7 linked regions of the Homo sapiens genome follow. The protein of the gene in region 1 purifies or fractionates together with the protein of each later gene. This does not show direct contact. Each region holds a gene or a part of one and is shown in the gene's direction. Other genes may lie near its edges.

Region 1 (3,500 bases):
GAGGTGGGTGGATCATTTGAGGTCAGGAGTTCAAGACCAGCCTGCCTATCATGGTGAAACCCTGTCTCTACTAAAATACAAAAATTAGCTGGGTGTGGTGGTGGGCACCTGTAATCTCAGCTACTCGGGAGGCTAAGGCAGGAGAATCTCTTGAACCTGGGAGGCAGAGGTTGCAGTGAGCCAAGATCGCAGTACCGTACTCCAGCCTGGGTGCCAGAGTAAGGCTCCGTCTCAAAAAAGAAAAAAGAAAGCTGAGGTGGCTCACGGGGTGTGTGTGTGTGTGTGTGTGTGTGTGTGTGTGTGTGTGTGTGTGTGTGTGTGTGTGCGCGCGCACGCGCGCACGCATGCACACGTGTAGGGAAGCAAAGGACGTGCTGGCTTTAGTGGGCAGGCCTCCTGCCATGGTGGGGCCAGTTTGCTGGTAGAAGCTGCTCTTCCTTGCAGCCCTGCAGGCTGTAGTGTCCGCTGGACTCCAAATTGTCAGGTTCATTTCTGGTCCAGCCTCAATCTAGGGAGCCCGCTCCAGGGGAGCAAAGGGACATAAACCACATAAGACAGGCCGAGGAGGATCACAGAGAAAACCCCATCAGCTCCAAACTCAAAACTCAGGGCTGGGACAAACCCCTTTAGAGGCTCCTGGCTCCTGGGAGCCAGATAAACCCCCATGCTAAGTAACATCAATCCCAGAGGCATGCATGCCGAAAGGGCTGGAGGGAGCCGGTGGGGAGGTCAAGTTCACCCTTCAGATGGGGTGTGGGTGGGTTTGCCCCCTTCAGGGAGACGTCACTGTCCCGATTCCCTCCTTTCTGGGCACCGGATGGTTGGGGGATCAGGACAGAGGACTGGGGCCCTGGAGGTCAGCACTGGGAGGGTGCACACTTAGGAGGTATTTGCTGCTCCCAGCACACCCCAGCTCAGCCGGCCAAGCTCACTCCCTCCCCCACAATTCATAGGCCCTTGAACAGCATGGTTTCTCAAGGGGTAGAAGGCAAATTTCCCTCCGCCACCACTACCCTACACCCCCTCTCAAGGAGAATTATTGCACAGCCTCTCAAGATTTCCCCCAGGGGGGTCCCAGGCTAGTGGGACTCCTGCCTGTCTGACCTGGTCTGCTCTGCAGGGCAGGAAACAGGCCTGGGAATTCGGGCTGTAAGCTGCTGTCAGTAGAATGAATGCCACAATGAAAAAACGGGCACTGGTGGAATAGTCAGAGAGCAATTGTAATAAAGAAGATTGCTATGAAAACCAGCAACGGAGGCCACCTTCCAGCACCCCAGGAGCTCAAATAAATGCATACGCAGAAACAACAGGGATGAAGTCTGGCAGGAATGAATTGTTTTCACTCCCTTTCTAGAGGAGAGGGAGCCAGTAGGCCAGAAAATGTGGTGTCTATGGATGGCTGGGGAGGGAGGAAGTGACGGGATAGGCCTTTGGTGTCTTAACAGAGGCTTGTTTCCTCCAGGGGACCCAGTACCCTGGGAGGAGTGAGACTGCTCCCCAGCTTGTTGTCTGCAGCAGGGCTGTCAGTGTTGGGCAGTGACAGGGAGGAATTCCCTGGCAGCCAGGGTAGGGGTGATTCCTCTGCAGATTCTACCAAATGTCCTGAGCTGGGAAGAGAGAAGGAAGAAACTCTAGGGTATCAGGACAAACAGAGGTAGTTTTCCCTCTCGCACATACCCCCCACCATACGACAGAGTGTGGTCAGGGCTGTATCCTGGGGCCTGGTGCAGTATCTGTATATACTAGGGAGCCCCCTCTGGGGGCTCTGAGATCTCTGGTAAAGAGCCCCCAGGCCTTGGAAGGTCTCCCAACCTGCTGCTTCCCTCCCAGGACCCCAGGATGGGTGGCATCGGGGTTCTGGGCCAGTGTGGGATGCAGCATGGGGGTGGAGGCGCGGGGCCTCTGGCCTGGCTGTTGGTGTGCCTTCTCTGCCTGGCAGAAGTATTCTCAGGCACAAGACTGGACAAAGAAAAACATTGACCTGCCCTGAGGATGCCCTCATGGCTGGCTCTGACCTCTGTGCTCCCTTCTCAGCTGCCCATCTGTGTCCTACTCCTCGGACCTGCCAGCCACCAGCGTCATCATCACCTTCCACAATGAGGCCCGTTCCACCCTGCTGCGCACAGTGAAGAGGTAAGTCCAGCCATGGGACTCTCATCTCAGTGGTGCTGGCAGGGGAGGACATTGGGATTGGGCGCTGTGGCCAGACAGCTTGAAGCCCAGCAGGTGCTGGAGGCTGAGTCCTGTACTTCTGAGAGGCTGAGACTGGTGAATCAGGGCCAGGAAGACCCCAGAAGTCAAACTGTTAGAGGAATGCGACAGTCAAACACCAGGTCAGATGTCCAGGACAAGGGCAGAAATGCAGGTGTCAGGAGCTGAGGGAGGCCGGGCTAGACAGGAGGCCTCAGGAGGGTGATGGAAGCCCAGCAGTGTCTGTCAGTGTCAGAGAGAGGTGGATTGGAGGTGGATTCTTCCTGCTAAGCCTGGGCTTGTGGTCAAGTTGAACTCCCATCTCCCCATTTCCTCAATGAACTTAGACAAGAATAGGATTCAGGTAGGAGCGCCCAGCATGCTGGCCCTGGAGCTGGGCGGCTGGGGAGTCCCACGGCCCCGGGAGTGGTAAAAATGGGAGGTGGTTCCTAAATCCAGGCTCTTTCTCTGTTTCCACTGCTACTGTAGTGTCCTGAACCGAACTCCTGCCAACTTGATCCAGGAGATCATTTTAGTGGATGACTTCAGCTCAGATCGTGAGTAGTCACCTTCCTTTTTGCAGCCCTCCATTCCGCCCTCGTCCCTGTTTCCCCAGAACACCAAGGCAAGCACCCTGAGGTTGTCCTGACCATCGCAGACACCTTTCTGCCCCCAGCAGGGATCCTGTCTTTTCTAGGACCCCTCCCTGGTCCTGTTCCCTGGTGTCAAAGGAGGGGAAAGAAGGGTGGGTGTTGCTTTGGATGGGACTCTAGTGAGATGATATTGTTTTTAAAAAGTAAAGAAAATCAACAGCATCCTTCATTATTACAACTGCCAAATGCAGATGATAGCTGGGCTGGTAGCCACCCCCAAGCGTGCTTTCTAGTGCTCCCTGAGGTGGAGTGGAGTACTGCCATAGGTACAGGCACTCCTCAGTCTGGCCTGAGAGTGGGGCAGGGCAACCCTTCGGCCAGTAGTGATGACCATACCTCTTCCCAATCCCCATCCCCAACCCTTTCCTGGGCTTAGTATGGGGCAATTTTCATGGCAGCCAAACCACTAGTGGCCTGATGCCCATGTCTAAATGAGCTTGCCTTCCTCTTTGCATCCTCAGCGGAAGACTGTCTACTCCTGACCAGGATCCCCAAGGTCAAGTGCCTGCGCAATGATCGGCGGGAAGGTGAGTCCTTGCACCCTGGGTCCCACCAAGGGCCCATCTTGGTGTCATCCTGTGCACTTCCCCACTCTCTCTTGGTGCCGTGGCACACCAAGCCAACATGGTCCTGCTGCATTCCTGATGGCTGAGACCA
Region 2 (3,500 bases), on another chromosome or scaffold:
AATCCACCATTGCTTGAAAACCATTCTAAACTCAGCCTGCTGCTTAAGACCTCTACTCTCTGAACCTAACTCATCTTTCCAGCATAAAATCTGGATAGCCAGGTAACCCTTCTGATTTAGCCAGACCTTTCTACTCCCTGTCTCATGCTGTCTCCGTGCCTCCCTTTGTGTGCCTTCTGTCCCCTCTCAGTATTTGCATCTGTTAATTCACAGTGGTACTTTTCCTTCCACACCTTCCCAAGTAAGTAAGTAAGCTTTCAGTAGTCATTGCTGTTAGTAAACTGCCAAGAACAATAGATAAAGACTAAAGGAGAGGCCTTTATATACTGTGCAGTGTACTGTGCTTTATTGCCAATTAAATTGCCATGTGCTATGCATATCATGGATTAGTAAATATCTGTTCAATAATTATAATTATGAAAAACTGCTGTTTACTGAATACCTGGTCTTACTACTATGAGGTATACTTTCAAAGAACTAAATCTTGGGTGAAGATATGTGTTCAGGGTCACACAGCTAGGAAAGAATGGAGCTGAGATTTCAGCCTAGGCCTGACTTCAGTATAACCACTGTACTGTATTTCCTCTCTTTCAGATTATAAAATGGAGAATTCCATAGTGTATTTTTACAAATTGAATGTTGAATTAGAATTCTTATTTAAGTAGAATGTTCTCTCTGAATTAGGGCCTGATTAACCGTTTTTTCCTTGATTCCTTATATTAATATAAGATTTGATGATTATGCTATTTTTATACTGAGTTTTTCTGTCTTAAATATATTTACTCACTACTAGTATATAAAGAAATAAGCTTATGTCAGGAATGGCACCTTTTAGGAATTAGTCATATTGTTGTATTATATCCGCTGGCCACCGTCTGCTGCCACAGTGATTCTCAGCCTTGGCTGCATGTTAGAATCACCTGGGACAGGGACTCTCAAACTTAAGCATGTCCCCGCATCACTAATTGCCGAGCCTCCCTCCAGAGTTTCTAGTCCAGTAGGTCCAGGATTCCTAATATGTTCCCAGGTGATGCTGGTGCTCTGGTGCATTGCCACACTCTGAGAAGCTTTACCCTAGGGAACTTTTGAAAATCTTGGTCAGGCCATACCCTAGATGAGTTAAAGCAGAATCTCCAAGTGTGAGACTCTGGGCAGCTTTTAAAGTTCCCCAGGTGATTCCAGTGAACAGCCAAGAAAAACTTGATCTTTGATTGGAAGTTCAGTTATTCCCTCTTTAGTTTATAAGGGAAATGTATGTGGTTTTTTTCTGCCCCTACTCACTCTTAATCTTTTCCCAACATTTGACCACCCACTTTTTATTGAAATTCCATTTCTATAGCTCCTGTGTCACCTCACTGTCGTCTCTGACCTCTTCAGTCACTCGTCTCTCACCTTTCATTGGCTTTTTTCTTTCTTCCTTTTTTATACTGTCCCGAATATGGACTTTTTCTAAGGTGTAGGCCCTGATCCTTTGTTCTCATTATATTCATTTTCCTAGTGAACTTATGTGTTCTTTACACCTTTAAGTTGCAACTCTGCCTGTAGGAGCAAAGCCTCGACTTCCCTTCTGATAACTGATGTCACATCTCCAACTTTGTTCAGGCATTCTCTGCTTGCACGCTCTACAGTTGTCCCTTGGTATACATGGGGGATGGTTGCAAGACATTCCCCCATACTGAAATCCACACATACTCAATTTAGCAGTCAGCTCTGTGGAACCTGTGTGTATGAAAAGTCAGCTCTGCATATTGTGCAGGTTTTGCATCTTGAGGACACTGTATTTTCAGTCCAAGTTTGGTTAGAAAAAATCCACCTATGAGTGGACCCACACATTCAAACCTGTGTTCAAGGGTCAGCTGTACTCTCTAACCCTGAATTCTGTATGTCCTCAGTGATTTATGGTCACACTTATCTAATCATAAAAGTCACCTGGTATATGCTGGGTAAACAATAGCTTTCCAGGCTCTACCCTGGAAATTATGATTCAGTAGATCTGAGATGAGATTTGGAAATCTGTATTTTTAACAAGCTCCCTGAGTGATTCTTATGTTCCAGCAAGGTTGGAAACACTGTACCATCTGAACTCATTGTAGCCTTTTATGCACTTTCTTTTTTAGTTTTCCTGTCAACGGGACCAATATCACTGATGGGGAAATGAGGCAACTTGAAAGCTAGGAGTCAAGTTCAACTGCTTTCTCCTTTATCCTCACACTGGATTATTTTGCTTTCACCTTGAGAGTCTTCCTCAGCTTCATCCTTTTCCATGCCTGAGGGCCCTCCTCCTCTTGCATCTTGATAACTGAGGTGCAGTTTGGAATAGTGGTTAAATGCTCAAGCTCTGGAGCTCTGCCGTGTTCTAGTTGGAGATCTTAAGATCTTAGGCAAGTAGCTTAACTTCTCTGTGCCTTAGTTTCCTCATCTGAAAAAATGGGGATACTATTAGTACCTATCACCTAAGTTATTATATGAAATTATACACAGAAAATGCTTAGAGTAATGCCTGGCCACCGTGAGTGGTAATAAACTGTTATTACATATTAATTAACTATTACTGAGATAGATTCTTAAGTTCTTTTCAACTTCTTTTCCCTATACACTAGTCTCCCCTTATCCTTGGGGGTTGCATTCCAAGGCCCCCAATGCCTAAAACCGAGGATAGTACTGAACCCTATTTATAATATGCACAAATTTCCTTTTCCTTCTTCACAGTTTCATGGATAGATTTGTTCTTAGAGATCCTAAGCAACCTCAGCATACATTTTTGTTTGTTTTTCTTATGAAGTCAAGAACTTTTACCTTTTCATGTAAAGAAAGCACTTAATGGCGGCTCCTTGGCATATCCAAATTGCCAGCATCACTACTCTTGTGCTTTGGGGTCATTATTAAGTAAAATAAGGGTGACATGAACACAAGCCCTGTGAGATATCCCGATGGTCGATCTGATAGCCAAGATGGCTACTAAGTAACTAATGGGCAGGCAGCACATACAGTGTGGATATGTTGAACAAAAGAATGATTCACATCCTGGGTGAGACGGTGCAAGATTTCATCGTGCTGCTCAGAAAGGCATGCAATTTAAAACATGAATTGTTTATTTCTAGAATTTTCTATTTAGTACTTTTATACCAAGGTTGACCATGGGTAACTGAAACCATGGATAAAGAGGGACTACACTAATACATTATGCATTTCGCCACCAGAGTAATCTTCCTAAGATACTGTTTCAGTATGTTGTCTCCCCTCCTTGAGCATCTTCATGATTCCAAATAACTTCCCAGATTAAGTCTAATTCTTCAGCACGGCATTCAGAGCCCTTAATCTCAGTCCTTTATACCTGCAGTATTTACCTCATGCTGTTCACCCACTTTGTGCCACAACCAGAGTACTTTATTGTCTACAGTATTCGCCATGTACATGATTCCCTTCCTGCCTTTGCTGATACTTTCCCCTTATTTGAATGTCTGTCTTTTTGTTTGCATATCTCATTCCTATCAATCATT
Region 3 (2,607 bases), on another chromosome or scaffold:
TTTACAACGTATCAATAAACAGTAGTGATTTAATAGTCAATAGGCTTTAACATCACTTTCTAAAGAGTAGTTCATAAAAAAATCAACATACTGATAAAATGACTTTGTACTCCACAAAATTATGACTGAAAGGTTTATTAAAATGATTGTAATATATAGAAAGTATCTGTGTTTAAGAAGATAATTAAAGGATGTTATCATAGGCTATATGTGTTTTACTTATTCAGACTGATAATCATATTAGTGACTATCCCCATGTAAGAGGGCACTTGGCAATTAAACATGCTACACAGCATGGCATCACTTTTTTTTATAACTCATTAAACACAGTAAAATTTTAATCATTTTTGTTTTAAAGTTTTCTAGCTTGATAAGTTATGTGCTGGCCTTGGCCTATTGGTGAAATGGTATAAAATATCATATGCAGTTTTAAAACTTTTTATATTTTTGCAATAAAGTACATTTTGACTTTGTTGGCATAATGTCAGTAACATACATATTCCAGTGGTTTTATGGACAGGCAATTTAGTCATTATGATAATAAGGAAAACAGTGTTTTAGATGAGAGATCATTAATGCATTTTTCCCTCATCAAGCATATATCTGCTTTTTTTTATTTTGCAATTCTCTGTATTCTATGTCTTTAAAAATTTGATCTTGACATTTAATGTCACAAAGTTTTGTTTTTTTAAAAAGTGATTTAAACTTAAGATCCGACATTTTTTGTATTCTTTAAGATTTTACACCTAAAAAATCTCTCCTATCCCAAAAATAATGTGGGATCCTTATCAGCATGCCCACAGTTTATTTCTTTGTTCTTCACTAGGCCTGCATAATACAGTCCTATGTAGACATCTGTTCCCTTGGGTTTCCGTTCTTTCTTAGGATGGTTGCCAACCCACAATCTCATTGATCAGCAGCCAATATGGGTTTGTTTGGTTTTTTTAATTCTTAAAAACATCCTCTAGAGGAATAGAAACAAATTTTTATGAGCATAACCCTATATAAAGACAAAATGAATTTCTGACCTTACCATATATACCATTAGGCCTTGCCATTGCTTTAATGTAGACTCATAGTTGAAATTAGTGCAGAAAGAACTCAGATGTACTAGATTTTCATTGTTCATTGATATGCTCAGTATGCTGCCACATAAGATGAATTTAATTATATTCAACCAAAGCAATATACTCTTACATGATTTCTAGGCCCCATGACCCAGTGTCTAGAGACATTAATTCTAACCAGTTGTTTGCTTTTAAATGAGTGATTTCATTTTGGGAAACAGGTTTCAAATGAATATATATACATGGGTAAAATTACTCTGTGCTAGTGTAGTCTTACTAGAGAATGTTTATGGTCCCACTTGTATATGAAAATGTGGTTAGAATGTTAATTGGATAATGTATATATAAGAAGTTAAAGTATGTAAAGTATAACTTCAGCCACATTTTTAGAACACTGTTTAACATTTTTGCAAAACCTTCTTGTAGGAAAAGAGAGCTCTCTACATGAAGATGACTTGTTTTATATTTCAGATTTTATTTTAAAAGCCATGTCTGTTAAACAAGAAAAAACACAAAAGAACTCCAGATTCCTGGTTCATCATTCTGTATTCTTACTCACTTTTTCAAGTTATCTATTTTGTTGCATAAACTAATTGTTAACTATTCATGGAACAGCAAACGCCTGTTTAATAAAGAACTTTGACCAAGGCTATAAATGCCACGTACATTATTTTCAGTATTGTTGGTTATATTTAAATTTTCCTTACAATAAAGCACACTTTTATAATAAAATACATGAATTATTGTTTTTCATACTTTTTTGCTTGTTTCTTTAAAGTTTTCTGACGTGCATAATGCATAATTCATTGAAAAGCATGATAGCAATGTGGCATGTGGAAGCGAACCCCCAGGGCATAACATAGTAAGAAAGTATGGTTCTGTATGGCAATAGGTTTTTAAAATTATTAGCTATTCATCATGTGTGGGAGAAATAATTGTGGTGTGTTGCAGATTTATTTGGCCATTTAGAATAACCAAATCAATCTGGCTAACTAGGAATTTATGTGTAAAATTATCTGATTAAAACAGCTCAAGTTTGACTTGTGGATGTCATTATTTAATTATTAATCAACACTCCTTACTATGTGAGAATTCTCTGTTGACCATTCATTCAAGGACAGAGCCTCTCGTGTATCATGCGTGGCTAAGGAAAGGGGTGAGGACTTTTTCCCCAAGAGTGACGGTGCTTTCCCTTATTTTAAATAAAGGTGTGTGTGTGTGTGTGTGTGTGTGTGTATGTATGTGTGTGTGTATTGTTTTCTACATATCCATATGTACTAGGGCTTAGTGCAGATATTTTAACATACACGTTACCTGTGACACAACTTAGGTGAATGTATATGTGTTACCATTAGGATTAGTATTATAAACTCTGGCTAAATGCCATTTAAAATGCTTTAAAAGGCCGGCACCATGGCTCATGCCTGTAATCCCAGGACTTTGGGAGGCTGAGGCAGGAGGATCACGAGGTCAAGAGATCGAGACCATCCTGGCCAATATAGTGAAACCCCGTCTCTATTAAAAATACAAAAATTAGCTG
Region 4 (3,500 bases), on another chromosome or scaffold:
ACATTTTGTTGAATGGAACCTATTTTAAAAACCTAAGTGTTTATAGGGCCATTGTAAAGTTCCTATGAAGCATTTAAGAAATAACATTTTAAAAGATCTTAAAACAAGTTTTTACATTAATGTCTTCCTTTAATGACATGGAAACATTAGAAAAACACAGTTTATAACTTACATTGTTCTTAATACACCCAAAGATGACTGCCATCAGCTTTGATGCGTGGCTCTCCAATTCTTTTTTTTATATTACACATGCTATTTTACAGTTTCCTTTTTTTCATTTAACCATGTACCCTTGAAGATTGCTCCAAGTCAGTGCATATAGATACTTCATTCTTTATAACAGCTGTGCAGTATTTCTTTATATAAGAATTACCATGGTTTACTTAAACGATTTGATATTGATGGACATTTCGCTTATTGTCTTTTTTTCATTGTTGATAGAAGCAATGCTAAATGAGTGTCATTTGATATGTATCTAGGTACTTGTGGGAGTGTTTTTATAGAATAAGTTATAACAAGGGGAAATGCTTGGCTAATGGATATTTATGACATTTAGAATTTAGAATCTTCTCACTAAGTTGCTTTTGCTTACATTTTCTACCAACAGTGCATTAGAATGCTAGGTTCCCCAAATCCTCACCAACTCTGTACAACTTAATGAAGTTTTGATGTAAAATGTAAACAGCATTGAAAGGCATTTTTTTCTTCATAATTTGTTTTTTCATAATTTAGATTTCAAATCCTAAATTTAAGTGGTATTTATAAATTTTCTGTTCTGTTTAATCTATTATTAAAATACAAGGATGCTCCAAGACACCTAGAAAGATAATTTATCTTTAGCATGACACTTAAAAAAGAATGTTGTGATTTTTGCTTTAAAAGAAAGCCTGTATAAAGCTGTAAAAAAAAAGTTATGCTAATGTTAAGTGGAAATACATCTGCAAAATACTTTTTCTCTTTTGCTTGTGGGCAATCTAAAGTGTTCTTGCTACCATCAAGCGTGCTCACTGGTGAATGTCCTTTCTTACCTTACTGTGAGTTTTCAAGAAACAGGAAAAAATTAAGTATTTTGATGTTGCCAAGCAAAACAAAAAAATTTGAATGTTTGGTCTGCTGCTTTTCTTTTGAGGTGTTGATAAGCATAATAGCATTATTAATATTATCATGTGCGGTGAAGGAAGCCTATCTTAAATTTAGGATAGTTATGATCTGGAATTTCAAATCACTTTTGTTTCTAATTTTTTACTTCTTACATCTGAAGAGACTCTTTAGTAAAATTTCTCTAATATATGTAAATTTAGGCTCAGAAATGTACTTTTTTCAGTGCATTTTGGAGTTGCTACGAGAAGGAGAGAGTAGTTTGGATTTAAAAGTGGTGGTTGAGAGGTATTAGACCTGAAGAGGTCATCAGTGGTGACAGATGTGGGACTGTCATTTAAAAAAATAGCATGGTTTTTGATTTCTATAAGTTTGCCTGCTCCTTGTTGTTTCTTTTTGTTTGTATTTCCAAAGGATGGACAGGGAGAAGATATAACAATTCATTCTGTGGTTATTTGTTTAGAGGTTATTTGTTAAGATTGACGTCAGCATTGCAGAGTGCAGAACCTAGAAATAAACAGAAAGATGCCTCTGATCAGTCCAGAAGCACTTTAAGAAGCTTTTATTAACATTCATGCATTTTATTTGTAGAAAGCTTTGTGGCTTGTGCTCAGAATCTATTTAATATTGTTTTGATAGAATTGACACATTTGTTGTCTAATCTAGCCTTTCACAGAGTAATAAGGGAGAGAAGGGGTACAAAATTACAATGAAAAACAGCAAGACTTAGAAACATCAACTCAAAAGCATGACATTCTGCCCACCGAGATAACAGTACTTTCTCCACTTTGAGGTTATGAAACCCAATTGATTCTGTAGTTGTGTCTCTGGGTCCAGAGCTTAAGTGATGATTCATTGTGCTGAAGGAGAAAAGTGTGTGTGTGTTTTTAGAAAGTTAATTTCAACTTATGATGCTTAAAATGGTGAGTGGATTTTGTAGGAAAACTGTCTTAGAGCAGCCATTTTTATCATAGAATCTGAAATACATTTATAAAATTCTACATTATAACTATCCTAAATTTAAGTGCCATTTGTAGATTTTCTGCTCTATTTAATCTATTATTAAAATACAAGGATGCTCTAAGACACCCAGACAGATACAGTAAATTTAATATTTCCTTTATGAATTGGATTAACATGATATTAGTCCTTTGTTTCTTAGTTCTGGCAAATGGTTTGTATTTAGGCACTTGAATTAAATGATTAAAGGGAAGTTTTCAGATTATTGGTTGATATGGTAACAGTTATCTTTGGTATTTTTCCTTTATCCTTAGTAATCCATAATTATCCATCATAGTAATTAAAATTTTCTTTTTAATATATTTTCAATTTTATTTTACCTCATTGTACATTTATTTAGGCATATACAAATTAGTCAGTGTGCCTTTTTTAAAGGCTGTCTCGTTTGATGCACCATAATTTTTAAATTATAACTTTTCATTTATAAAATTAATATTAATAGTATTTAATGACTAAATCATAAATAAGTCCATGATTTTACCGTGTCTGTATTTTTACTGTCTAAAGGTTGCTTTTCTTTGTTTTCAAGACTAGTTCTATAGGGATCAAAATGATTTTGTGACTAATATAGTTGATTTTTCTTTTTGCAAAGATTGATCCTGTGAAATCAGGCTGGGTGTTCATGCCTGTAATCCCAGCACTTTGGGAGGCTGAGGTGGGTGGATCACTTGAGCCCAGGAGTTCAAGACCAGCCTGGGCAGTATGGCGAAACCCTGTCTCTACAAAAATACAAAAAAATTAACTGGCGTGGTGGTGCACGCCTGTATTCCCAACTACTTGAGAGACTGAGGTGGGAGGATCACCTAAGCCCTGGAGGTGGAGGCTGCAGTGAGCTGTGATTGTGCCCCTGGACTCCAGCCTGGGCGATAGAGTGAGACCCTGTCTCAAAAAAACCCCTAAATCCTGTGAAATCAGTCTGAACTGCTGACAGGTTGGTTCATATCCTTAGATCATTCATTCATTATTTTTTGAATAGTCTATACATTTTTATGGAATGTGTACTCTTTGCCAGTCACTGTTACATAATATAATGACTATACCCGATAAAACATGGTACCTAGTCTAGAGCTTGTGTGGTCTGAATTAAAAACAAGTAAGGGAAAAAAGAAAACTCTAACACACATCCCCCTTTATATAATTTTTGTTTTCACCCAAATGAATTGAAATCATAGATGGAACAGTTTTTCAGAACTTTAGCTACTCAAAACTAATGAAAGAGGAGCTTACCAGATGTCAAGTTCATAATTTCACTAAATTTCTTTTAAGTTTTAGCTAATGTAGAATGTATTGGTGTATTCTTTATGGTATAGTGCTTTGACTACCCAATTTAGTTTTTTTTTTTTTTTTTTTTGACAGAGTCTTGCTCTGTTGCCCTGGCTGCA
Region 5 (2,865 bases), on another chromosome or scaffold:
GCTGGAGTGCAGTGGCATGATCTTGGCTCATTGCAGCCTTGACCACCTGAGCTCAAGCAATCCTCCCACCTCATCCCTGCCAAGTAGCTAGAACTACAGGCACACACCACCATGCCTGGCTAATTTTTTTGTAGAGACAGGGTTTCACTGTGTTGCCCAGGCTGGTCTCCAACTCCTGAGCTCAAGTGCGCCTCCTGCCTCAGCCTCCCAAAATGCTAGGATTACAGGCATAAGCCACCGAGCCCAGCCTAGTAAGGCAGTTTAATGCTATGTGCAAAAATCGTAACATGGTGCAGTTAACGCATTCCAATCAACCCCTGAACACGTACCTGTGATTCATCTCTTAATGTTCACTGACCAAACCTGTAACTTCAGCATACCCATGAGACAAACTGTTTTAAAATTTTGCTTTCAGGATTTCCAGTAGCAAGTGATATATAAAGATATTAGGTAGGTATTTAACAGTTATCACATCCAGGCCTGGCACGGTGGCTCACGCCTGTAATCCCAGCACTTTGGGAGGCCGAGGCGGGCGGATCACAAGGTCAGGAGATCGAGACCATCCTGGCTAACATCATCTCTACTAAAAATACAAAAATTAGCCGGGCGTGGTGGCGGGCACCTGTAGTCCCAGCTATTTGGGAGGCTGAGGCAGGAGAATGGCGTGATCCCAGGAGGCAGAGCTTGCAGTGAGCCGAGATCCGCCATTACACTCCGGCCTGGGCGACAGAGGGAGACTCCATCCCAAAAAACAACAACAACAACAAAAAAAAAAGTTGTCACATCCAAATTTTGAATTCAGGGACTTTATTTTCTTTGAACCCCCACAGCCAGCTTGTTTGGAGGCATCGGAATGCAGAACTGTTGCAGTTCAGTTGAAAGCAATGCCATCTAGTGGTGTGTGTACAGCAGGTCAAATGTTAAGCGTAGATTTTCTAGTAGAAAGTAAATTATCTTTAGGTCTTGCTAAAAAACATTATGTTTCAAGTTTGCCTCTTTTAACTGCTAAAAAGGGCAGCTACTAAAAACTAGGACTCAAAAACCTATTTTTAGTTCTTCCATCAAAATCTTACAAATAGAAGAGCTTCAGTATGCAAAGTATTTCTTGCAGTTAAATTTGTACATTACAAAATGTCTCTGGACGGATTCACAAGAAACTGATAATGTTGGTGGCTGCCTTTGGGGAGAGGACTGAGGAGCAGGATTTTTCACTGTATAGCTATAGAATTTTTATGTGTATGACCGTATTAAATTGTTTAAATACATGTTACTGAAATTTTTCTTACATAGGTCATGAATGAAAAACTTCAGCACTGCATGGAACTAACAGATCTAATGCGGAATCACCTGAATGAGAAGAGGGCACTCCGCTTGGAGTGGATGATTGTCATCCTCATTACCATAGAGGTAAGATGGAAATGCTCTGTACTATGATCAGTTACCATCTTTTCACAAATACAGGGGCTATGCTAATAAGATAGTTTGAGATAGAAAATTATTAGCAGAAAAGAGGCTGACTTTGTTATCATTACTAACTCTATTTGGAAGTTTCAAATTACTATTTGCAAATGCATTAAAAGTAATTCTTGAAAAGGTTCCACTTTTTAAAATTTGAGAGTAGACCTCAAGGTTCTGCTTTTAAAGACAGCATTTGGAAAAAGTTCTAGCTGTAAATTTATAATGTACAGCTCAACATCAAATCAAGCACCCGTACCTCCAATTCATAGGTTGCCACGTGAGAAAGGGCAAACATTTACCTTACTTCAGGAGCATTTCTCATTAATCACAATCTTGGAAGTCATTTTAGTTTGTACCCATAATTTGCCCGTCATGAAATAATTCTCACTTTCTATTCTAAGGTAATGTTTGAGCTGGGACGAGTATTTTTCTGATCAAGTGATAACCAAAGTGTCACTGCAAGAGATATTCAAGTTCTACAATCAAAAATTAAATGTTCGGCCCGGCGCGGTGCCTCATGCCTGTAATCCCAGCACTTTCGGAGGCCAAGAAGGGTGGCTTGAGATGAGATCAGGAGCTCAAGACAAGCCTGGCCAACATGGTGAAACCCCATCTCTACTAAAAATACCAAAATTAGCCAGGTGTGTTGGCACACGCCCGTCATCTCAGCTACTCAGGAGGCTGAGGCAGGAGAATCTCTTGAACTTGGGAGGCGGAGGTTGCAGTGAGCTAAGATCACACCACTGCACTCCAGCCAGGGCAACAGTGAGACTCAGTCTCAAAAATAAACAATAAAATAAATAAATAAATGTTCACTACTGGGTGATCATTTAATAGGTGTTTTTTTAATCAAGAAATTATCTTTTTCAGCCCAGTATATCGTGTGAATAAAATTATGAAGAATCTAGTGTTTGTATCTACATCACTGACAATTCAAAAGGTAAATATTTCAGTTAAGAACTTTGGAAAACTAGCATCTAGGAAATCTTGGCAAATCTTGGCAGATACTTCTTAAAGTCACAGGACTTAGGTTTTAGACACCACAACTTAACCTATCCCCAGGGAATCCCATCATGGCCCTGGCTAAGAGAATCATACAGGAACTGAAGTGTTTAAATCAATATATACAGGCCGGGCGCGGTGGCTCACGCCTGTAATCCCACTTTGGGAGGCCGAGGCGAGTGGATCACAAGGTCAGGAGATCGAGACCATCCTGGCTAACATTACACGGTGAAATCCCGTCTCTACTAAAAATACAAAAAATTAGCTGGGTGTGGTGGCAGGCGCCTGCAGTCCCAGCTACTCAGGAGGCTGAGGCAGGAGAATGGCATGAACCCGGGAGGCGGAGCTTGCAGTGAGCTGAGATCATGCCACTGCACTCCAGCCTGGGCATCAGAGAAAGACTCC
Region 6 (3,500 bases), on another chromosome or scaffold:
CAGGTAGCAGCTGGTGGGGCAGAAGCCCACTGAGGAGGGAGAAGGGGGTTGGCAGGATGGGGAACTGAGTGGCTAGAGAAGGGATGGCAAAAATTTGTCAAAGGCATCTCTGAGAGTTCCAAGACGTAGCGACTTTGTATATTAGAGCCACCAGGAGGGGAGGAGGAGAGAAGCTCAGTTTCAACATGTTGAGTTTGAGGTGCCCTTGAGGAACCCAGCTGGGAGTAAGGAGTTGACCTTGGGGATGACGCTGGAGCAAGATAATGGACTGGGGCTCACTGGCAGAGGGAAGGCAGGTATGAGCAGACGGGCACCAGGCTCTCAGAGCCCTGGCCTCCTGTTGAGGTGTCTTTGTTGACAGCTGGGGGACCTTGGGCATGCCATTTCACCTCTCTGTCCTCTCCTGTAAAACGGGCGTCATGATTTTTGCCTTGTAGGGGGGACCATGAGAATAAAAATGTTTTGAAAATAGCAAAGACATAACTAAGGTGAAGCATTACTCTCAGAGGGATAGTTGGAGCCACGGGGCGGGTGGCAGGCCAGGGCCCTATGGAAGGGGAGTAGGCAGAGGGAGGAGGCCGAGGCTGTGTGGCCAGGGCTGGATGTCCAGGCTGAGAGTGCCCTGGAGACAGGCTGTCTGTGGTTGGGGTGGGTTGGGCTTCTGTGAGCAGCTGCTGGGAGACGGGTGTCGGGGGAGTGTCAGGGGCCAGCGGGAAAGGCCAGAAAGGCTTGAGAGATGTAAGTAGTTGTCCAGTTGAGAGGGCAGCTGCAGGGACACCCTGGGAGGCATAACTGTGACCCGTGGGCACCCAGGGGACTTTGTTCTCTTGCCTTCTTCCCACCCTTAATATTATAATATCTGGGTTGTTCATCTGTGGGGAAGGAAGTGCTGCTGATCTTGATGGGAGGGAAACGTAGGCTCTAGCTCACCTTCTGGAGGCGGGGCACCAGGTTTGTACTGCAACCAGTGCCTTGGTCTGGTGGTGCGGCGCTGTGTAGCGGAAACCTGGCCCCTGAAAGTTCCTCCTCGCAGTGAGTGAGGCTGGGGAATGCCGAGCACTTGGTGCTGCCCCGAGCCCCTTTTTGGGCCAGCTCATGACTGAATGTGTGTGTTTCTGGGATGTGGGCTGGGGCCCCATTCTTGGGTGCAGCCCTTCTCCTTGCACTTCTCCTCCCAGAGCCTGCCAGTGGAGACACTGGGCCCGGCATCCAGGATGGACCCAGAATCTGAGAGAGCCCTGCAGGCCCCTCACAGCCCCTCCAAGACAGATGGGAAAGAATTAGCTGGGACCATGGATGGAGAAGGTACTGGGCCCTGCTTAGGACATAGCTTACCGGACAAAGCTATTCTCCATATTTTGGGGTTTCTCAGTTTCCTCAGAGAAAGGGAGGCTGGTTCGTTTTAGTTCCTCCATTAATCTCAGTTGACAAACTCCTTTTCTCATTCCATCCTGGCTTTTTCCTGCCTCTTCCAACCTGGTAGGGGCCCGTGGGATGGACAGAGGGCTGCAAAGGAAATTCAGCTGGGGCAGTGGGTTTTTCTGCGCCTTTTCTCCTACCGCAGGGACGCTCTTCCAGACTGAAAGCCCTCAGTCTGGCAGCATTCTAACAGAGGAGACTGAGGTCAAGGTGAGGAGATTTGCTGTGGGAAGGAAGGGAGGCGGGGAGGGCTAGCAGCTGCTCACTGCTGCATCTGCATTAGGGCACCCTGGAAGGTGATGTTTGTGGTGTGGAGCCTCCTGGCCCAGGAGACACAGTAGTCCAGGGAGACCTGCAGGAGACCACCGTGGTGACAGGCCTGGGACCAGACACACAGGACCTGGAAGGCCAGAGCCCTCCACAGAGCCTGCCTTCAACCCCCAAAGCAGGTGAGAGTCTTCCTTGCCTCTCCTGTCACTCTCCTTCTAGAAGGTATGGGAGAGGGATCAGCCATCACTACTGAGCACATGCTGTGGTCCAGGCCCTAGGGCTGAGCAGCTTGGTGCTCTCCTTTCTCACCACTACCCCTGGGACGTTGAGGCCCAGAAAGGTTGAATGACTTGACCAAGGTCACACTGCTGGTAAGGGGCAGGGCCCACATCTGGTTGACTCTTTCCTCTCTGCCATGGGGACCTCCTCTTTTCTTGCTTCCAGAATTCAACCCTCATTTCTGGAGTCCCTTCCTTGTGCTGGCCCTGGGCCTGGGCAGAGGGAAGATGGTTGGTTACCGCCTATGTAAGCGGCAGATCAGACTGAGCCAAGGTGCATATCAGACCTAAGAGTGGTACAGAACTGTAATTAAGGTACTCCCAAAGGAAGGAGAGGCCATTCAGTCAGGGGACTGGTTGAGGGCAAGGGAGAGGCTGGGACAGTGAGAGGTGACATTTGAGTGGAGCCCTGAGCACAGAGTAGGCTTTTGGTACGTAGGGCAGGGAAAAGAGAATGTTTTAGGCCAAGGCTGCAGCATCAGCAAAGGAGTGGGGACCACCTGTCTTGTGCTAAGGAGCTCTGTTCCAGGCTTGTGGCAGAGGAGTGTAGGAATTGGTCCCTGTTGAGTGACAGGATGGAGGGCCTGGGGGCCATTTAGGAGGCAACTGCAGTGGTCAGGCAAAGATGATGCAGACCTGGGCCAGGCATGGTGGCTCGTGCCTATAATCCCAGCACTTTGGGAGGCTGAGGTAGGAGGATTGCTTGAGCCCAGGAATTCAAGACTGCAGTGAGCCATGGTCATCCCACTTCACTCTAGCCTGGGCAACAGAGGGAGACCCTGTCTCTAAAGGAAATAAAAATAGGCGGCAGGGTGCAGTGGCTCACGCCTGTAGTCCCAGCACTTTGAGAGGCCAAGGTGGGTGGATCACCTGAGGTCAGAAGTTTGAGACCAGCCTGGGCAACATGGTGAAACCCCGTCTCTATTAAAAATACAAAAATTAGCTCGGTGTGGTGGTGCACGCCTGTAGTCCCAGCTACTTCCCAGCTACCTGGGAAGCTGAGGCAGGAGAATCGCTTGAACCTGGGAGGCGGAGGTTGCAGTGAGCCAAGATTGTGCCACTGCACTCCAGCCTGGGTTACAGAGGTAGACTCTGCCTCAAAAAATAAAAATAAATAAAATAAAATAAAATAAAATAAAATAAATAAAAATAAAAATAGGCTGGGTGTGGTGGCTCACACCTGTAATCCTCACACTTTGGGAGGCACAGGCAGGAGGGGCTGGGCTAGGGTAACCCACCTAGGCCAGGCGTCTGTCCTAGCATCCTCCCCCAAAAGGAATGTTTCCTATTTACCCACACATCCTGACCCTCCCCTCTCCCACTATAGTCAGGGCGTCTTCCCAGTTCTTGGTTCACATCCCTTGTGCTAAGGTTTGGGCCAGGGCTGGCATACCTGTTCCACATGGTACATGAAACATACATGGTATCACCTGTGATTGATTGGTGTGGTCTGCCTGGAGCACTGTGTGGAAAAGGATTTAAAGAACATGCCAGGTGCCATGATCAGTTAACACTGTTCCAGGTATGGGAGGT
Region 7 (3,500 bases), on another chromosome or scaffold:
AAAATCCATTCTTTACTGGGGGGAAGAAATGAACTCTAAAACCATAAAAATGATGAACCAGTAGAAAATTTTCATCTGTAAATTTGAACCATAAAAGGATATGTTCATTTAGCATCATTTTTATATGTGTAAGCGGCATGTTACGCTATTATGGAATTGCCTTTGTAGCAGAGTGGACGAGGCAAAACCTTCCAAGTTTGATTATGGCCTAGGGCGCTGCAGTCAGTACGTGCACCGTGCATTTTTGTCAGACCACAGGATGTTTCACCTTTATCATTCTATTTCAGTTTCTCAAGTGTAGGTAGATGCTGTAGTAACTAGTGAAGTACAAATCCATGTAAAAATGTTAAACTCTCATCTGTTCGCTGTGTTTGTATTTTCTTAAAGGTAGGGATTAAAAGTGTAATAGGCCCACAGTCCCTTATCTGGAATCATTGGGCCAGATAAGTTTTAGAATTCAGAATTTTTCAGATTTTTCTAAAAGTAATAATATGCATATATTGTTGTTATGTAATACTTCCAGTGGGGTCTGGGACAAAATCCCATAATCAAACATTAGTATAGCAAAATATATATACATATATTCCCACTGAATGGATATGCATGAAGATTATGCATAGTTTAATATCAGTTCAGGTCAACTTTTATTGCCAAATAAGTTACAAAAAAAGATTTGTTTTTTAGAACTTTTTGGATTACAAAATGGTGATAGGGATTGTGGACTTGTCTTACTTTTAGTTATATACCTATTGAGAGTCTGTTAAATTTTTTTACTGTAAATAATATTTCCCATATTCCCAAAGGTTGGAAACCACAATCACATAAGCAGGGGTCACAAACCGAAGTGCCAGGTTGGGTAAAATAAATAAGTGAAATGGGAGGCGGGTATAGGACAGTAGGGAATGTGGGGACTGCAGTGAACTGGTGAATACATGTTCATTCAAAGGGGAGAGCTGCTCTTCAGTTCTAGCCACTTGTTGCCATGGTGAACGTGGGAGTAGTGAAGCTACATCTTCCATTTTTGATGATACTCCAGAATGCTGATTTTCATGTGAAGTTTCTTGATATTTAAATGTTGGCAACTAAAAAGAAAAAAACCCACTGTTGGCCAAAGAAAACATCTGAAAGCATTATCTGGCTGTGGGCTGCCTGCTTTCATTTGTAGTTTAGAGACTAATGCTTGTGGTATGAAAAGTTGTCAGTGAGCCGGGTGCAGTGGCCCATGCTTGTAATCTCAGCATTTTGGGAGGCTGAGGTGGGAGGATCACTTGAGACCAGGAGTTTGAGACCAGCCTGAGCAACATAGCAAGATCCTGTCTCTACACACGCAAAAAGTTTAGCCAGGCATGGTAGCATGTGCATGTAGTCCCCAGCTACTTGGGAGGCTCAGGTGGGAGGATCGCTTGAGCCTGGGAGGTCGAGGCTGCAGTGAACTGTGATCCTGCCACCGTGCTCCAGCCTGGGTGATGGAGTGAGACCCTGTCTCTAAATAAGTAATTTGTCAGTGGCATTCGTAATGAACTACTTTCTTGAGATATGGATGGGTGCATTTGCTTTATTGTTATTCATTATGCTTTACATACACACTATATGTTCTTTGCACATAAAATATTTCATAATAAAAATCTAAAGAAGTTGATAAGCACTTTATTTTAGCATTGCCTTATTTTCTAGCCATTAGGAAATTTTCATCTGTAAATTTGAAACTTTAAACTTATTTATCTTGGAAAAGGGACTGAAAGCCCCACTTCAAAAATAGGAGCCCTCTTTTTAAAAAGTAGGAGTTAAAAGAGGTTAGATTGTAATGTTCATTCCTTTCCAGGGCCATAGTGATCTGAAGTAACATTGGGTATTCACTGTTATATTGCGACAGAGAAATGTCCTCGATCTCCTTTCTTCTCAGACCGTTCCCCTGGGTGATCTCAGCCCCATAACTATCACCTCATGGTGACAGTTTTATGCCTCCAGCCCTGGGGTCTCTTTATCCCTAGAATGATGCTATCATCTCTCTCTTGAAAAATCTCTGCTGACATGGCCTGATAAAATTGAACCCATGAACTTCTTCCTCAAATTGGCTTCATTTCCCTCTATCTTCTAGTCTGTGAGTCACGAGACTTTGGCCTGCAGGGTAAATCCAGCCCACCGCTTGCTTTGTGAAAAAGTTTACTGGAACACAGCCACTCACTACAGTGGCAGGGTTGAATAGTTGCAACAGTGACCCATATGGCCTGCAACGCCTATGGTATTTATCCTCTGGCACTTCATAAGAAGCATGTGACCCCTGCCCTAGGGCATTAAATGCCCTCACACCCTCCCTAGTCACCTGTCAGTCCCATTCTTTTTCCTCCATCATCTCAGTCAGGTGAGGAGACTGGAAATTCTGCCTCTTTGATTATCTTTTTCTTTTTTTTTTTTTTTTTGAGACGGAGTCCCTCTCTGTCACTCAGTCTGGAGTGCAGTGGCATGATCTCGGCTCACTGCAACCTCTGTCTCCCGGGTTCAAGCGATTCTCCTGTCTCAGCCTCCTGAGTAGCTGGGACTACAGGCGCACACCACCATGTCCGGCTAATTTTTTTTTTTTTTTAATTTTTAGTAGAGACAGAGTTTCACCATGTTGGCCAGGCTGGTCTGGAACTGACCTTGATTATCTGTTGACTTCATCTTTGCTTCCCAGAGGCCATCCTTCCTGTTACCTTAATTAGGTGCTCATTATTTTTCACTTGGAGTCAAATTTGTCTTCCAGTTGGCTTTGCTGCCTTGAGCTGGCTTGAGCTGGATTGTATCTACAATTCCCCAACCTTCTGTTTGACATGGTCGGTCACCATTTTAATGATTATAGCTGCTCACCTCTAAATTACTTTTTCATGATGAATTCTCTAGAGGTTAGAATCACTAGATTTATAGGAAATTAATGTTTATATCATGACAGTATTGCCAGGTTGTCTCCTAAGATGATAATGCCGTCATTTAGTTTGTAGTGCAGAAAGTGATGTTGCGCAATAATGTGTGTCATTATGCATGACATGATGAATATCACATTTCACCATCACCTTAGTTGCATTAGATATTGTCCTTAAAAAATTTGTTATCTATTTAAATTTTTTCCACTAAGTTCAAAATGAATGTGTTCTTACATTTGTATTTCTTTATATGAGTTTTCTCTGTATGTGTCATTTGTTTGTCATGGAATTAACGTTTAGTTATCAGTTTCATTGCTCAGTTACCAATTTAGTTCAACAAATGTCTCTTGAGAACCTGTCAAATGATAGGGGCTGGGGTTAAAAATATAATTGATCCCTGGGGACTTGAATGTGGAGACAGAGCTACAAACAGATAATCTGAATGTAACCAGTTTTATCTATTCTAGCAGATCTTAGGTGCTGTTAATGAAATCTTAATGCCATTCTTTGATGTATTTATGTACTTTAATATAAACAAGTTAGCATTCTTGTTCATAGATATGTTCCTCAACAGATACAGTGATGAAACCTTGCACATTC

What was found.
Region 2: the proteins of GALNT16 (region 1) and SAAL1 purify together in Homo sapiens (co-immunoprecipitation; 2 studies listed by BioGRID and IntAct, with this or other methods). This does not show direct contact.
Region 3: the proteins of GALNT16 (region 1) and PRKAR2B purify together in Homo sapiens (co-immunoprecipitation; one large-scale study listed by IntAct). This does not show direct contact.
Region 4: the proteins of GALNT16 (region 1) and IPO8 purify together in Homo sapiens (co-immunoprecipitation; 3 studies listed by BioGRID and IntAct, with this or other methods). This does not show direct contact.
Region 5: the proteins of GALNT16 (region 1) and RMND1 purify together in Homo sapiens (affinity purification with mass spectrometry; 2 studies listed by BioGRID and IntAct, with this or other methods). This does not show direct contact.
Region 6: the proteins of GALNT16 (region 1) and PBXIP1 purify together in Homo sapiens (co-immunoprecipitation; one large-scale study listed by IntAct). This does not show direct contact.
Region 7: the proteins of GALNT16 (region 1) and ARHGAP17 purify together in Homo sapiens (affinity purification with mass spectrometry; 2 studies listed by BioGRID and IntAct, with this or other methods). This does not show direct contact.

Annotation. Positions count from the first base shown.
Region 1 is NC_000014.9:69,322,658-69,326,157, forward strand, and holds part of GALNT16 (polypeptide N-acetylgalactosaminyltransferase 16), read left to right. Parts: intron 1-2,034; coding exon 2,035-2,133; intron 2,134-2,679; coding exon 2,680-2,747; intron 2,748-3,304; coding exon 3,305-3,370; intron 3,371-3,500. UniProt on the Homo sapiens protein: Catalyzes the initial reaction in O-linked oligosaccharide biosynthesis, the transfer of an N-acetyl-D-galactosamine residue to a serine or threonine residue on the protein receptor.
Region 2 is NC_000011.10:18,092,583-18,096,082, reverse strand, and holds part of SAAL1 (protein SAAL1), read left to right. Parts: intron 1-3,500. UniProt on the Homo sapiens protein: Plays a role in promoting the proliferation of synovial fibroblasts in response to pro-inflammatory stimuli.
Region 3 is NC_000007.14:107,159,705-107,162,311, forward strand, and holds the end of PRKAR2B (cAMP-dependent protein kinase type II-beta regulatory subunit), read left to right. Parts: 3' UTR 1-2,107; downstream 2,108-2,607. UniProt on the Homo sapiens protein: Regulatory subunit of the cAMP-dependent protein kinases involved in cAMP signaling in cells. Type II regulatory chains mediate membrane association by binding to anchoring proteins, including the MAP2 kinase.
Region 4 is NC_000012.12:30,685,870-30,689,369, reverse strand, and holds part of IPO8 (importin-8), read left to right. Parts: intron 1-3,479; exon of another isoform or gene 3,480-3,500. UniProt on the Homo sapiens protein: Involved in nuclear protein import, either by acting as autonomous nuclear transport receptor or as an adapter-like protein in association with the importin-beta subunit KPNB1.
Region 5 is NC_000006.12:151,404,262-151,407,126, reverse strand, and holds the end of RMND1 (required for meiotic nuclear division protein 1 homolog), read left to right. Parts: intron 1-1,290; coding exon 1,291-1,407; intron 1,408-1,859; coding exon 1,860-1,892; 3' UTR 1,893-2,365; downstream 2,366-2,865. UniProt on the Homo sapiens protein: Required for mitochondrial translation, possibly by coordinating the assembly or maintenance of the mitochondrial ribosome.
Region 6 is NC_000001.11:154,949,600-154,953,099, reverse strand, and holds part of PBXIP1 (pre-B-cell leukemia transcription factor-interacting protein 1), read left to right. Parts: intron 1-1,178; coding exon 1,179-1,305; intron 1,306-1,564; coding exon 1,565-1,629; intron 1,630-1,702; coding exon 1,703-1,868; intron 1,869-3,500. UniProt on the Homo sapiens protein: Regulator of pre-B-cell leukemia transcription factors (BPXs) function. Inhibits the binding of PBX1-HOX complex to DNA and blocks the transcriptional activity of E2A-PBX1.
Region 7 is NC_000016.10:25,005,370-25,008,869, reverse strand, and holds part of ARHGAP17 (rho GTPase-activating protein 17), read left to right. Parts: intron 1-3,500. UniProt on the Homo sapiens protein: Rho GTPase-activating protein involved in the maintenance of tight junction by regulating the activity of CDC42, thereby playing a central role in apical polarity of epithelial cells.